Linked DNA regions of Homo sapiens: regions 2 and 3 are each linked to region 1. Evidence: fine-mapped expression QTL. A gene starts in region 1. Each other region holds a variant in brackets. All regions are shown on one strand. Distances are from middle to middle.

What was found. PIP is the estimated chance that this variant, and not a neighbour inherited with it, causes the effect. A credible set is the group of variants that fine-mapping cannot tell apart.
Region 2: its variant is the best candidate, but not a certain one, in a credible set for the expression of WDR73 in whole blood (TOPMed, PIP 0.59).
Region 3: its variant is the best candidate, but not a certain one, in a credible set for the expression of WDR73 in tibial artery (GTEx, PIP 0.69).

Annotation. Positions count from the first base shown.
Region 1 is chr15:84,651,772-84,655,937 of GRCh38, forward strand. It overlaps WDR73 (WD repeat domain 73), which reads right to left and starts at 2,512. Exons shown (of 8, transcript NM_032856.5): 1 at 2,463-2,512; 2 at 1,861-1,928; 3 at 943-1,031. The coding sequence starts at 2,503. It overlaps NMB (neuromedin B), which reads right to left. Exons shown (of 3, transcript NM_021077.4): 3 at 3,361-3,638. The coding sequence ends at 3,603. RefSeq lists enhancers at 1,865-2,832, 2,259-2,498.
Region 2 is chr15:84,725,058-84,729,223 of GRCh38, forward strand. No RefSeq gene overlaps it. Among named protein-coding and RNA genes, the nearest start is that of SEC11A, 11 kb to the left of the region's middle. The variant C/T (reference allele first, on the strand shown) is at 1,908.
Region 3 is chr15:84,602,686-84,606,851 of GRCh38, forward strand. ZSCAN2 (zinc finger and SCAN domain containing 2) reads left to right here. Exons shown (of 3, transcript NM_181877.4): 2 at 1,135-1,648. The coding sequence starts at 1,243. LOC105370947 (a long non-coding RNA gene) reads right to left here. Exons shown (of 4, transcript NR_186225.1): 2 at 3,677-3,778; 3 at 1,175-1,300. Among named protein-coding and RNA genes, the nearest start is that of ZSCAN2, 3.8 kb to the left of the region's middle. RefSeq lists an enhancer at 739-1,367. The variant T/G (reference allele first, on the strand shown) is at 2,315.

The sequences.
Region 1 (4,166 bases):
TAGTCTTTGGGCCTGACCACCACCAGCAAAAATCCTGTAGCAGAGGTCACCAAGAGTTTCCCAATTGCCAGTCTTATGAATGAACTCAATTCCTCATCTGAATGATTTTTTTTTTTGAGATGCAGTCTTGCTGTTGCCCAGGCTGGAGTGCAGTGGCACGATCTCAGCTCACTACAACCTCCGCCTCCCGGGTTCAAGCAATTCTCCTGCCTCAGCCTCCTGAGTAGCTGGGATTACAGGTGTGCGCCACCATGCCTGGCTAATTTTTGTATTTTTAGTAGAGACGGGGTTTCACCATGTTGGTCAGGATGGTCCCGAACTCCTGACCTCATGATCCGCCCAACTCGGCCTCCCAAAGTGCTGGGATTACAGGCGTAAGCCACTGCACCTGGCCTTCAATTCTTCTCTCAATGATTTTATTGGAACTCTAGACAGCTACTAACTCTTTTTTTCTTGAGAAGTTCTCTTCTCTTGGCTTCAGAAACATTGACCTTTTCTGAGATTCCTCTTACCTCAGAGGCTGTTCTTTCTTAGTATTCTTTGGGGAGGGGGGGTGCATCTTCCTGTACTCATCCCTTAAATGTGTTCCCTGAGGTTCCGTCCTCACTATATTCTCCTCACTCCTTATATACCACACATTCACTAGGTGACTTTAATCACTCTACGCATTTCGACCGCCCTCTATATCCTTAATCGCTCCCTAAATCTATTTCTGATAAAGTATAACTGACCTCCTCCTCTGATAGCCCTCTGTAAACCACGAGACATTCTACAGCATTTATCTCTGTGCATATGTGCCTCCCTCTGTTAGACTAGAAGGGCAGGCCTAGCGCTTTCTCTCTTTCTAGTATCCAGGACAATACCTGGTAGATAACAGGAGCTCCACAAATGTTTAATAAATAAATAAAAGTTGACATACTCAGCATTTATATTTTAAGTTACCTTGTTTTCCTTTACAGAAAGTCTGAGAGGTAATTTCAGATGAAGAATTTCATTCTTTTTCAGGCTTTCATAGCCAGCAACAAAGACTCCTGGAAAAAGAAGCAGAGGTAGCTGTCACAAATTGTTAGAAAGATTGCAGACCATGCAATCCCCCGAAGTAAGGATACATTCCTTCACTGTGCAGCCTTGTATGGAGGAATTGAGTACCTGGTTGTGTCTTTTTCAGACAAGGTCTCGCTGTGTCAGCCAGGCTGGAGTGCAGTGGTCCGATCACAGCTCACTGCAGCCTCAACCTGCCAGGCTCAAGTGATCCTCCCACCACAGCCTTCAGAGTAGCTGGGATTATAGGCGTGAGCCACCATGCTCGGCTAATTTTTGTATTTTTTGTAGAGACAGGGTTTCCTTGCTTAGGTTAGTCTCAAATTCCTGGGATCAAGCAATCTGCCCGCTGCCTCAGCCTCCTGAAGTGCCCAGCCTGAAGACTTTTTTTGTTAGCCACGCTGGAATACAGTGTCGTGATCTCAGCTCACTGCAACCTCCACCTCCTGGGTTCAAGTGATTCTCCTGCCTCAGCCTCCCCAGTAGCTGCTGGTACACAGGTGTGCACCACCTCGTCCGGCTAATTTTTGTATTTTCAGTAGAGACGGGGTTTCACCATGTTGGCCAGACTGGTCTCGAACTCCTGACCTCAGGTGATCCGCCTGCCTCGGCCTCCCAAAGTGCTGGGATTACAGGCGTGAACCACTGCTCCCGGTCAGAGATCTTAATAAGAGGAATATTAGTGCTGATGGGGCATCAAATTGCTACAAGTGACTCTCAGGTGCCCAGAAGAGTGGGTTGGGTCCCTCTAGGCTTAGCTCCTGAAACCCAGCTCAGGAGTGAGATTCCCTCTCCTTCAGGGCTAGAAAGGTATACCACCTTTGTCATCAATCCATTCAAGGACTCGAGTGGCTCCTGACAGGTCGAATGCATAGAAATCCTGGTACCTGCACAAAAGGGACACAGAATCACACGATGCACAGCACTTCACAGCTCAAAGAACTCCAAGATGGCAGCCGCATGGTTCAGTGGCCCAAACTCTGGAGTCAGGCAGACGTGGGACTGAGTTTACTTCCCATTTTACTCCCTGTTTCTGGGACCAGGCCAGTCCCTTGATGTCCCTGAGCCTCGGTCCTCATGTGTGGACGTCCCAGGGTACCCAGATTTCCCAAGGTTGACGTGAGGAATCAATGAGATCATCTGTGTTCTGAGCTGAACTCAGAGGCTGGCGCAAACTAACTGGGCACTGCGTCTTCACAAGCGCGGCTCTTACTAGTAATCTCACAACGCGCGCACGCAGGAAGGAGCCATTTCCTAGAGATGGGGGCCTAGGCCCAGGCGGAGTCCTCCACGGTGGCGAGCCCCGAGGCCACAGCTGGCCCACTCTGCACCAGGATCCCCAACGTGCCTCCACCCACACCCATCCGCCCGCCAGGCAAGCTCCAGGCCCAGCTCCCATGTCCCAGCCCCGTACGATTTACAAGCGCAAGGATTCCACCAGCCAGTCGTCCCCAGGATCCATGGCAACGACCGCTTCCGGCGTCTCACTTCCGCCTGCGAGCCTTCGGGGGCCGCGCGGCTCTCGCGAGATGTGGGCAGGGCCTCCCGTTAGGGGCGGGGTTAACAGGCTGAGCTGCGGCCCGGCATGGGTGGGTTACGGGTTTTCTCCGCGAAAGCTCCGGGAAAAGTGACCTGAAATCGGGACTTTCCCGCTGTCAGCTCCAAGCAGGACCTGAGGACCAAATGATCGCCCGTTTTAGGGCCAGGTGTTTGCAGCCCAAGAGAGGGGCAATGAATGCTCCAAGGCCAGAAATAATACAGGACCGCCCGGTTAAATTCGAATTTCAGAAAAACGGTGAATAATTTCTTTCTTACGAGTATGTTCATGCAATATTTGGTACATTTTATTAGATAAAATTATTGTTTATCTGAAATTCGAATTTAACTGGGTGTCCAGTATTTTTATTTGCTAACGCTGGCAACCCTTCTGACGGCCAGAGAAGAGAGGAAGCGGCCGGCAGGGTCTGGATCCCAACTCGGCGCTCCCCTCCAAGTCCGGCGGGGGTATTGAGTAAAGCCCGGCAGTGTAGTGTCTGCAGCCCCCTTTTACTAGCGAGGAAACTAGTGACACTTGCCTGCGCCAGTAGGTGGCAGAGATGAGAGTAGAACCCCGCGCCTGGCACGAAGCCTGGCATGCAACAGGCGTTATTTGCTTGCTGAATGAATGGGTAGGAGGCCAGAGTCAGTGCCAGGCTGGTGCCATGGCATGGGGTATTCTGGACTTTTTGAGCCAGCCCCATCTCACTGAACACTCTGCCCTCCAGCCCCCTTTTCCTCCCATCCCCTAAAAGACGGGTGAAAGGAGAGGACCAGGCATTGTATGTAAAGAGCAAGGTTTTATTCACCAATTCAACAGGGAAGCAGGAAATACAGCAGGAACATAATCTGTGTCTGCATCAGCGATATTTCTGGTGACCCAGCCAGAAATCACAGTAATGGAGTAACAGAGATTTGAGCTCAGGATTTACATCCAGATGGGGCCATCAACAGGGTCCCATTCAGCACCTTCCCTGGGTGGGCACAATCTAAGCCACGCTGTTGTGTCTGCCCCATTATTGGTGTCATTTCTGCAGTATTTGTACCAGCAGCCTCCTGTACTGAAGAGAAACATACAGAAGAATTGAGCCAGGGAGGGGCTCCTGATAAAGATAGGGGCATCCTGCCATTCCTAAGTGCCAGATGTCTGCAGAGGTGGGCACCAGCAGGCTGTCAGCTGAGGCAGGCCCCAGAGCACCCTGAATTGCCTTGGAGGGGTCGGGGCAGTAGTTTTCTCAGAACACAGCCCCAACCACCCAGGGTGGTCATGACAGTCAAAGAAGATCGTGGAAGAAAATCCAAATACAGTGCTTGGTGCTGGGCTAGTGTCAGCGTCCTCACTCCCCCACCCCAGCTCTGCCCCAGACCTCACTCTGAAGCCCCAGACGTAGGCACTGCTGCTTCTGAGATTCTCTAGTTGGTCTGCATGTGTCAGAGCTTCAAAACCAAGGGCATTAGAGGTGACATTGTTTCCCTTCAGACTCAGCCAGCCCAAGCTCCTAGGCCTTACATCTGAGGTCCTCAGGGGCTGCTGGTTCTGTGCCTCAGGAAGTCAGGGATGTTGGTTGAGGCTGGGTTGGACCTTTTCT
Region 2 (4,166 bases), 73 kb after region 1:
TACTTCCTGTGTTGGGCCTGCCTAGTCCAGATTTGTCAACATCCTGCCTCCCAACTCCCACTGTTAACTAGGCTGCCCAGAGAATAATGCACAATACCAGCCTCACCCCTCACCCTGGAGGCCCTAACCACACATAACTTCTTTCAGTTCCCCAAAAGGCTCTGGGCATTCCTTAAAGCCACTCTTTCTGGCATTCTCTAGCCCTTATTTCTCCCCTTTGCTTAGCCATTCTTTACTTAATCTTTAGGTTCCATCTTAGACATCATTCCCTCCACCCCCAACAACCAAAGCCTTCTCTTATCTCCCAAAATGGCTTAAATTATTCTCCCAGGCAGCCACTGAGCCCTTCATTCTTCCCCTATCACAACACTTATCACATTTTATTGTCATTACTTGTCTGGCTCTTCTGGTAAATTGTAGGCTTCACAAGCCAGGCAACATGTCTGTAAAGCTATCCCAAGTTGCAGTCCCTGGCCCATAGTTGATGTCCAGTAACTGCTGCTAGGAGAAAAAATGGGTCAGGTGTAATGGCTCATGCCTGTAATCCCAGCACTTTGGGAGGCTGAGGCAGGAGGATTGCTGGAGCCCAGGAGTTCAAGACCAGCCTGGACAACATAGGGAGGCCCATCTCTACAAAAAATGAGAAAAAAAATAGCTACGTGTACTAAAGCCTGGGCAACAGAGTGAGACCCTGTCTCAAAAAATAAAAAATAAAAAGAGAGAGAAAAGAAATGAACAAATGAATAAAAGGAAATGAGTGTTCATCAGCAGCACCTGCAACACATTCTCCTGCGTTTTTTCTTTTTTTTTGAGATGGAGTCTCGCTCTGCGGCCCAGGCTGGAGTGCTGTGGTGTAATCTCGGCTCACTGCAACATCCGCCTCCCAAGTTCAAGCAATTCTCCTGCCCCAGCCTCCCGAGTAGCTGGGACTACAGGCGCGCGCCAGCACACCAAGTTAAGTTTTGTATTTTTAGTAGAGGCAAGGTTTTACCATGTTGGCCAGGATGGTCTCGATCTCTTGAACTTGTGATCCCAAAGTGCTGGGATTACAGGCATGAGCCACCACGTCTGGCTTCTCCTGCCTTTTTATCTTCCCAAAAGAATCTGTGCACCTAGTTTTGTTTTGTTTTGTTTTATCGAGATGGAGTCTCTCACTATTGCCCAGGCTGGAGTGCAGTAGTGCGATCTCAGCTCACTGCAACTTCTGCCTCCCGAGTTCAAGCGATTCTCCTGCCTCAGCCTCCCAAGTAGCTGGGAGTACAGGCGTGTGCCACTACGGCCAGCTAATTTTTGTATCTTTAGTAGAGAAGGGGTTTCACAGTGTTGGCCAGGATGGTCTCCATCTCTTGACCTCATGATCCGCCCACCTCGGCCTCCCAAAGTGCTGGGATTCCAGGCGTGAGCCACCAGCACCCGGCCACACCTGAGTTTTTAAAAACAAACAAACAGCAGGGCACGGTGGCTCACGCCTGGAATCCCAGCACTTTGGTAGGCCAACATGGGCAGATCACTTGAGCTCAAGAGTTTGAAACCAGCCTGGGCAACATAGTGAAATGCCGTATCTACAAAAAATACAAAAATTAGCCGGGTGTGGTGGCACACATATGTAGTCCCAGATATTTGGGAGGCTGAGGTGGGAGGATCGCTTGAGCCAGGAGGTCAAGGCTGCAGTGAGCCAAGATTGCACCACTGCACTCCGGCCTGGGTGACAGAGCCCGACCCCATCTTAAAAAAGTAAAAATAGGGCCAGGCATGGTGGCTCATGCCTGTAATCCCAGCACTTTGGGAGGCTGAGGCAGGCGGATCACCTGAGGTCAGGAGCTCAAGACCAGCCTGGCCAACATGGTGAAACCCCGTCTCTACAAAATACAAAAATTAGCCGGACATGGTGGCGTGCACCTGTAATC[C/T]CAGCTACTCAGGAGGCGGAGGCAGGAGAATTGCCTGAACCTGGGAGGCAGAGGTTGCAGTGAGATGAGACTGTGCCACTGCACTCCAGCCTGGGTGACAGAGCAGAACTCTGTCACAAAAAACAAACAAACAAACAAAAACACTTAAAAACAAACAATGGAGAGCTGTACTGGAAACACTTAAAATTTAAAACTAGAGACTCTCAGAATATGAATTTTCCTCACTTCCTTCAAAATCCAGCTTACCCAATTAAACATGTTTTCAAAGAAAAAAAGAAGGAAGGAAGAAAAGAGAAAAAAAGTACAAAGAAAATACTCTAATGCTGAAATGCTAAGAGTGGTTTCTATGTCTGAACTGTCCAACACAATAGCCACTCACCACATGGGGCTCGTGAGTACTTGAAATGAGGCTTAGTCCAAATTGAGATGTACTGCAATTGATAAATACATCCTAGATATGGAAGACTTGGTATGAAAAAAGAATATAAACTACCAATTACACTGATTTCAAGAAGGGATGATCATACTTTTTTTTTTTTTTTTGAAGCAAGATCTCTCTTGACTAGGCTGGAGTGCCGTGGCTGGATCATAGCTCACCGCAGCCTCAAACTCCAACTCTTGGGCTCTAGCGATCCTCCCACCTCAGCCTGCAGAGTAGCCAGGACTACAGGCGCATGCCATCATGCCTGGTGTATTAGTCAGGGTTCTCTAGATGGACAGTACTAATAGCATAGATGTATATATGAAAGGGAGTTTATTAAGGAGTACTGGGCCAGGCGCGGTGGCTCATGCCTATAATCCCAGCAGTTTGGGAGACTGAGGTAGGCTGATTACCTGAAGTCAGGGGTTTGAGACCAGTCTGGCCAACATGGTGAAAACTCGTCTCTACTAAAAATACAAGATTAGTCGGACATGGTGGTGCATGCCTGCAGTCCCAGCTACTTGGGAAGCTGAGGTAGGAGAATTGCCTGAACCCGGGAGGTGGAGATTGCAGTGAGCCGAGATTGTGCCATTGCACTCCAGCCTAGGTGACAAGAGCGAAACTCCAGCTCAAAAAAAAAAAAAAAGGAGTATTGGCTCACACGATCACAAGGTGAAGTCCCATAACAGGCCGCCTGCAAGCTGAGGAGCAAGAAAACCATCCTGAGTCCCAAAACCTCAAAAGTAGAAAAGCTGCAGCTTCAGTCTGTGGCAGAAGGCACAAGAGCCCCTGGCAAACCACTGACGTAAGTCCAGGAGTCCAAAAGCTGAGGTGTCCGAGGGCAGGAAGCATTCAGCACTGGAGAAAGATGAAGGTCAGGAGACTCAGCAAGTCTGTTCATTCCACTTTCTTCCGCTTTTTCTTTTTCTTTTTCTTTTCTCTTCTCCTCTCCTCTTTCTTTCTTTTTTTGACAGAATCTTGCTCTGTTGCTCAGGCTGGAGTGCAGTGGCATGATCTCGGCTCACTGCAACCTCTGCTTCCCGGGTTCAAGCGATTCTCCTGCCTCAGCCTCCAGAGTAGCTGGGACTGCAGACGCCCACCACCACGCCTGGCTGATTTTTGTATTTTTAGTAGACACGAGGGTTTCACCATATTGGCCAGGCTTGTCTCAAACTCCTGACTTTGTGATCTGCTCGTCTCGGCCTCTCTAAGTGCTAGGATTACAGGTGTCAGCCACTGCATCCGGCCCTCTTCTGCTTTTTCTAGCTGTGCTGGCAGCCAAGGTGATGGTGCCCACTCAGATTAAGGGTGGGTCTTCCTCTCCCAGTCCACTGACTCAAGTGTTAACCTCCTTTGGCAACGCCCTCACAGACACACCAAGGAATGATACTTTGCATCCTTCAATCCAATCAAGTTGACGCTCAATATTAGCCATCACACCTGGCTAATTTATAGACAAGGTCTTGGTATGTTGCCCAAGCAGGTCTTGAACTCATGGCCTCAAGCAGTCCTCCTGCCCTGGCCTCCTAAAGTGCAAGGACTATAGGCGCGAGCCACTGTGCCCAGCAGTACTTTTTTGTTTTTTAAATACAAAACAAAAAGAACACATGGCATTGGTCACATGACATGGGCTTATGCTAGTGGACTGCTCTAAAACCATCAATTTAGAAAAACAATGCTCATTAACTACTATTCTCAAGTACAACTCTGTTCCTCTTCTTTTACTATAGATTCAAGGAATACATGTATGGGTTTGTTACATGGATATATTGCATAATGGAGAGGTTTAGGATGCTAGTGTACCCATTGCCCAAATAGTAAACATGGTCCCAGTAGGT
Region 3 (4,166 bases), 49 kb before region 1:
TCGGGCAATTCTCCTGCCTCAGCCTCCTGAGTAGCTGGGATTACAGGCGCCCGTCACCATGCCTGGCTAATTTTTGTATTTTTGGTAGAGACGGGGTTTCACTATATTGGCCAGGCTGGTCTCGAACTCCTGACCTCAAGTGATCCGCCTGCCGAGGCCTCCCAAAGTGCTGGGATTACAGGCAACCACGCCAAGCCTATAGCACAGTTTCTAATACATGCTGCTATATGGGTGTGTCATAGTTTATTAGCCATTCCCTGCTGCTGGATTTTTAAGGACTCGATTTTTTGGTTATTTTTTTAAGATAAAGTACTGAGGGGCCGAGGCTGGATTGGAGAGTATATGCATGTTTTAAACTTCATACTTAAAGTATGGTAATAATGCAGTTGAGATATTGCCTTTCTTCCAAAGAAGCTCAGAGTGCTTTGACATCTGATCCATTGCTGATCCTTAAGATGCCCCCATAAAAACAGAAACATGAGTGTTATTATCTTTATTAGGTGGTCACCGAGTTTGGTGACTAAGTTGTATGTTAGGTCAAGGTCACACAGTGCAAGTCGAAACTGACTTAGGAGAGTCCTCAGTATTTCAGTCATGGGTTTTTCCCGGGGACTTTGCATTTCTGATACTCATTCTTTGGTGTTTTGGAAGGAACAATGCTGTATTTTTTGTGCTTGGGATACTTTTTTTTTTTTTTTTTTGAGACGGAGTCTCACTCTGTTGCCTGGGCTGGAGTGCAGTGGCGAGATCTGTGCTCACTGCAACCTCCGCCTCCTGGGTTCAAGAGATTCTCCTGCCTCAGCCTCCCAAGTAGCAGGAACTACAGGCCCCCGCCACCACGCCCGGCTAATTTTTGTATTTTTAATAGAAATGGGGTTTCACCATACCTCAGGTGATCCGCCCACCTCGGCCTCCCAAAGTGCTGGGATTACAGGCATGAGACACTGCACCCAGCCTTCTTTTACCACAGAGAGATGTTTTCAGGAATAAGCCATTTTTTCTTTAAGAAGAACAGGAAACGTCTGTTGGTTTGCATATGTAAGGGCCACTTGGTGGTCTGACCTGGGCTTTTGTGAGTTAGATTGCTTTAGGACAGTCTACCTATGGATTATGGTTCTCTTTTTTGTTTCTCAGCGGGACTACTTGTTGATATTTGAGGAGGGAAGTGTCTTACCTGAGAGCCTGGCTGGAGAAGACTGAGGTCCAAGGCTTGAAGCCTAAGTGATTGCCCCAGGACTGTGGATGATGGCTGCAGACATCCCGAGAGTGACCACTCCGCTGAGCTCCTTGGTCCAGGTGCCTCAAGAGGAAGATAGACAGGAGGAGGAGGTCACCACCATGATCCTGGAGGATGACTCCTGGGTGCAAGAAGCTGTGCTGCAGGAGGATGGCCCTGAGTCTGAGCCCTTTCCCCAGAGTGCTGGCAAGGGCGGCCCCCAGGAGGAGGTGACCAGGGGACCACAGGGTGCACTCGGCCGCCTCCGAGAGCTCTGCCGGCGCTGGCTGAGACCAGAGGTACACACCAAGGAGCAGATGTTAACCATGCTGCCAAAGGAAATTCAGGCTTGGCTGCAAGAGCATCGGCCTGAAAGCAGTGAGGAGGCAGCGGCCCTGGTGGAAGACTTGACCCAGACCCTTCAGGACAGTGGTGAGACGCAGAACCTCATAGGGAGAGGGCGGGAGCACCCTTCCAAGGTAGAGGAGTGTGGTGTTTCGGAGGAGGAGAAGGTGGTGTCCAAGGCAGAGTGGGGGGCTAGCGCCATCCCTCTGCTCTGTCTGCAGGCAGTCAGCGTGTTCATCAGCCTTTTAGTGTCCTCACTGTGTGCAAAGTCAGCTCCAGAAGTGCTAGGAGGGCCTTAGAGCTACATTTGAATTGTAAGCACAGTTTTTACTTCTGTGTTTATTTGGAGTGGTTGGGAAGGTGATGGAAGTTAAACGGGAGGAGATGGAGACCCCTGGCACCTTCACGTGGTTGTGCAAGAAACATCCAAATGGTTCTTGCAATTAGAGAAAACAATCTGATATTTTCAACATGACTTTTTTTTCTTTTTTCTTTTTTTTTTTTTTTTTGAAACGGAGTCTCGCTCTGTCACCCAGGCTGGGGTGCAGTGGCACAATCTTGGCTCACTGCAACCTCCGTCTTCTGGGTTCAAGCAGTTCTCCTGCCTCAGCCTTTTGAGTAGCTGGAATTACAGGCGTGCGCCACCACGCCCGGCTAATTTTTTTATTTTTCGTAGAGATGGGGCTTCACCATGTTCGCCAGACTGGTCTCAAGCTCCTAACCTCGTGATCCGCCCACCTCAGCCCCCGAAAG[T/G]GCTGGGATTACAGGCGTGAGTCACCACGCCTGGCCCCAAAGTGGTTATTTTTATGAAACCAAGAGAAATGACAAGTAAACCAGCTAATAACTAGGGACTTTCTGTGGTATAAAGTAATCCTGGGCTCTTAAAATCGTAATTTCAAACTTGAGCTCTTTGCAATAGTTACTCTATTTTTTTCCGGTGTTACTAATAAGTATTGGGATTCTGGCTTGCCGTTTAACCGCTGTCTCCCTCCTGGTTTTCCATTGTAAAGTAGACTCACTTGATGACCAAATGTTTACTTCAGATGTGCCTTGAGGGCTGTCTCAGGGCTCGAAGGATATGGCTGCCTTTGTGCTGATGAAAACTACGGAAGTTCAGAGAAGGGAGCGTGGAGAGGAAAGGTCAGGTCAGAGAAGGCTTCCTGGAGGAGGTGACACCTAAGCAGGAGGTTGTAGAAGGGAGTAGGGTGTGGCAGCTGAGAGGAGCTGTGCTGAGCAGAGGCTTGGAAGGGCAGAGCCACGGTGGTTTATACCTTTGGGTGACAGGAGAGCTGGCAGATTGGAGTGGCAAGTGTGTTTTTAGGAAGTGGTAGGAAGTAGAGTTTGGGGGAAGGGTGGGTGAGGGCTTGGACTGAATGTTTTGCCTCAGTGGGTTCTTGAACTAGACCCCCAAGGGGCATGGAAGGAAGCGGAGTTTGGCAACAGGATGTAGGTTTGATTAGGGTAGTGAGAGGCTAGGGGCAGGAGAGCAGCCAGGAAGCTCCCTTGTCTTCAGGTGTGCAGTGATGGGGGTCTGCCCCAGATGGGGCACGTGTGAGAAAGAACTGATAGTCACCATGGCTAGCACTTTCCAAGCTCTTTCTGCAAGCCAGGAAATATGCTTAGCATCTAATATGGAAAACTCATGTAATCTTCACCACCCTGGAAGATAAGCAGGATTATCATCACCAGAGATCCCTTAAGATCATGTGCCTTTGTACCAGGCAGAACCAAGATTTGAACTTATGTGTGTGAGGACATAGCCCATGTTTTTAAGCGTTGTCATATGTATGATTCTAAGAGACACTTCCTAGTGGGTGTTGGAAGTTGGGGATGCAGATGGAATTAAGACAGTGACTACAGAGCATCTGGCCTGGAGGATTCAGAGGACTGGGAAGAGAAGAGAAGGAAACTGAAGGGGATTTGGGGCAGAGACTATCACAAACTCCAGGGACTGGGTGAATGAGTAGAGCTGTCCTCTGGAGAAAGGGACTGACGCCGAAGGTCTGCAGTGACCCAGCCCTGCCCTGGGCACCTTCATGCTTGTCTCACTAAGAATCCTGTGAGTGGCTGGCATTGTCATTTCACAGATAGGAAATATAAGTGCAGGAAACTCACATGGCTGTTGAGTGGTGGAGCCAGGATTCAAACCCAGACCTGTCTCTTTCTGCATGGAGATCTCAGTTTTGCTTGAAGCAAAGTGCTTGATTTTCTTTGGCCCTGAAAAAATAACTGCATTTTATTCCTTCTATTAAAATAAGCAAACCTGTCTCCCTATTTTACAGCTGTAGCTGTCGTTGCTTCCCTTCCGGTGGAGGTGACCAGTTTGTAATGAACTTCTGGATCTCCAGTCAGATACTATGGAGGAGAGAGTGATGGAGGGCTGAGGAGAGGCCTCAGGTTGTTATTTGGTTGGGGAGGCACAGAGCAGAGGTTCAGGTCTCAGCAGGTGTCAGAGGTGATTACAGCCCTTCCCATCCACCTTGCAGCAGGGGCTTTGTGCCTTTCATCTTTAACTGGGCACCTGAGATGGGAACCAATGGGGACCATCCCAGACACATGGGTTTGTCTGTCCCTGACTTCTGCCTCTGAGATTGTCTTTGTTGGT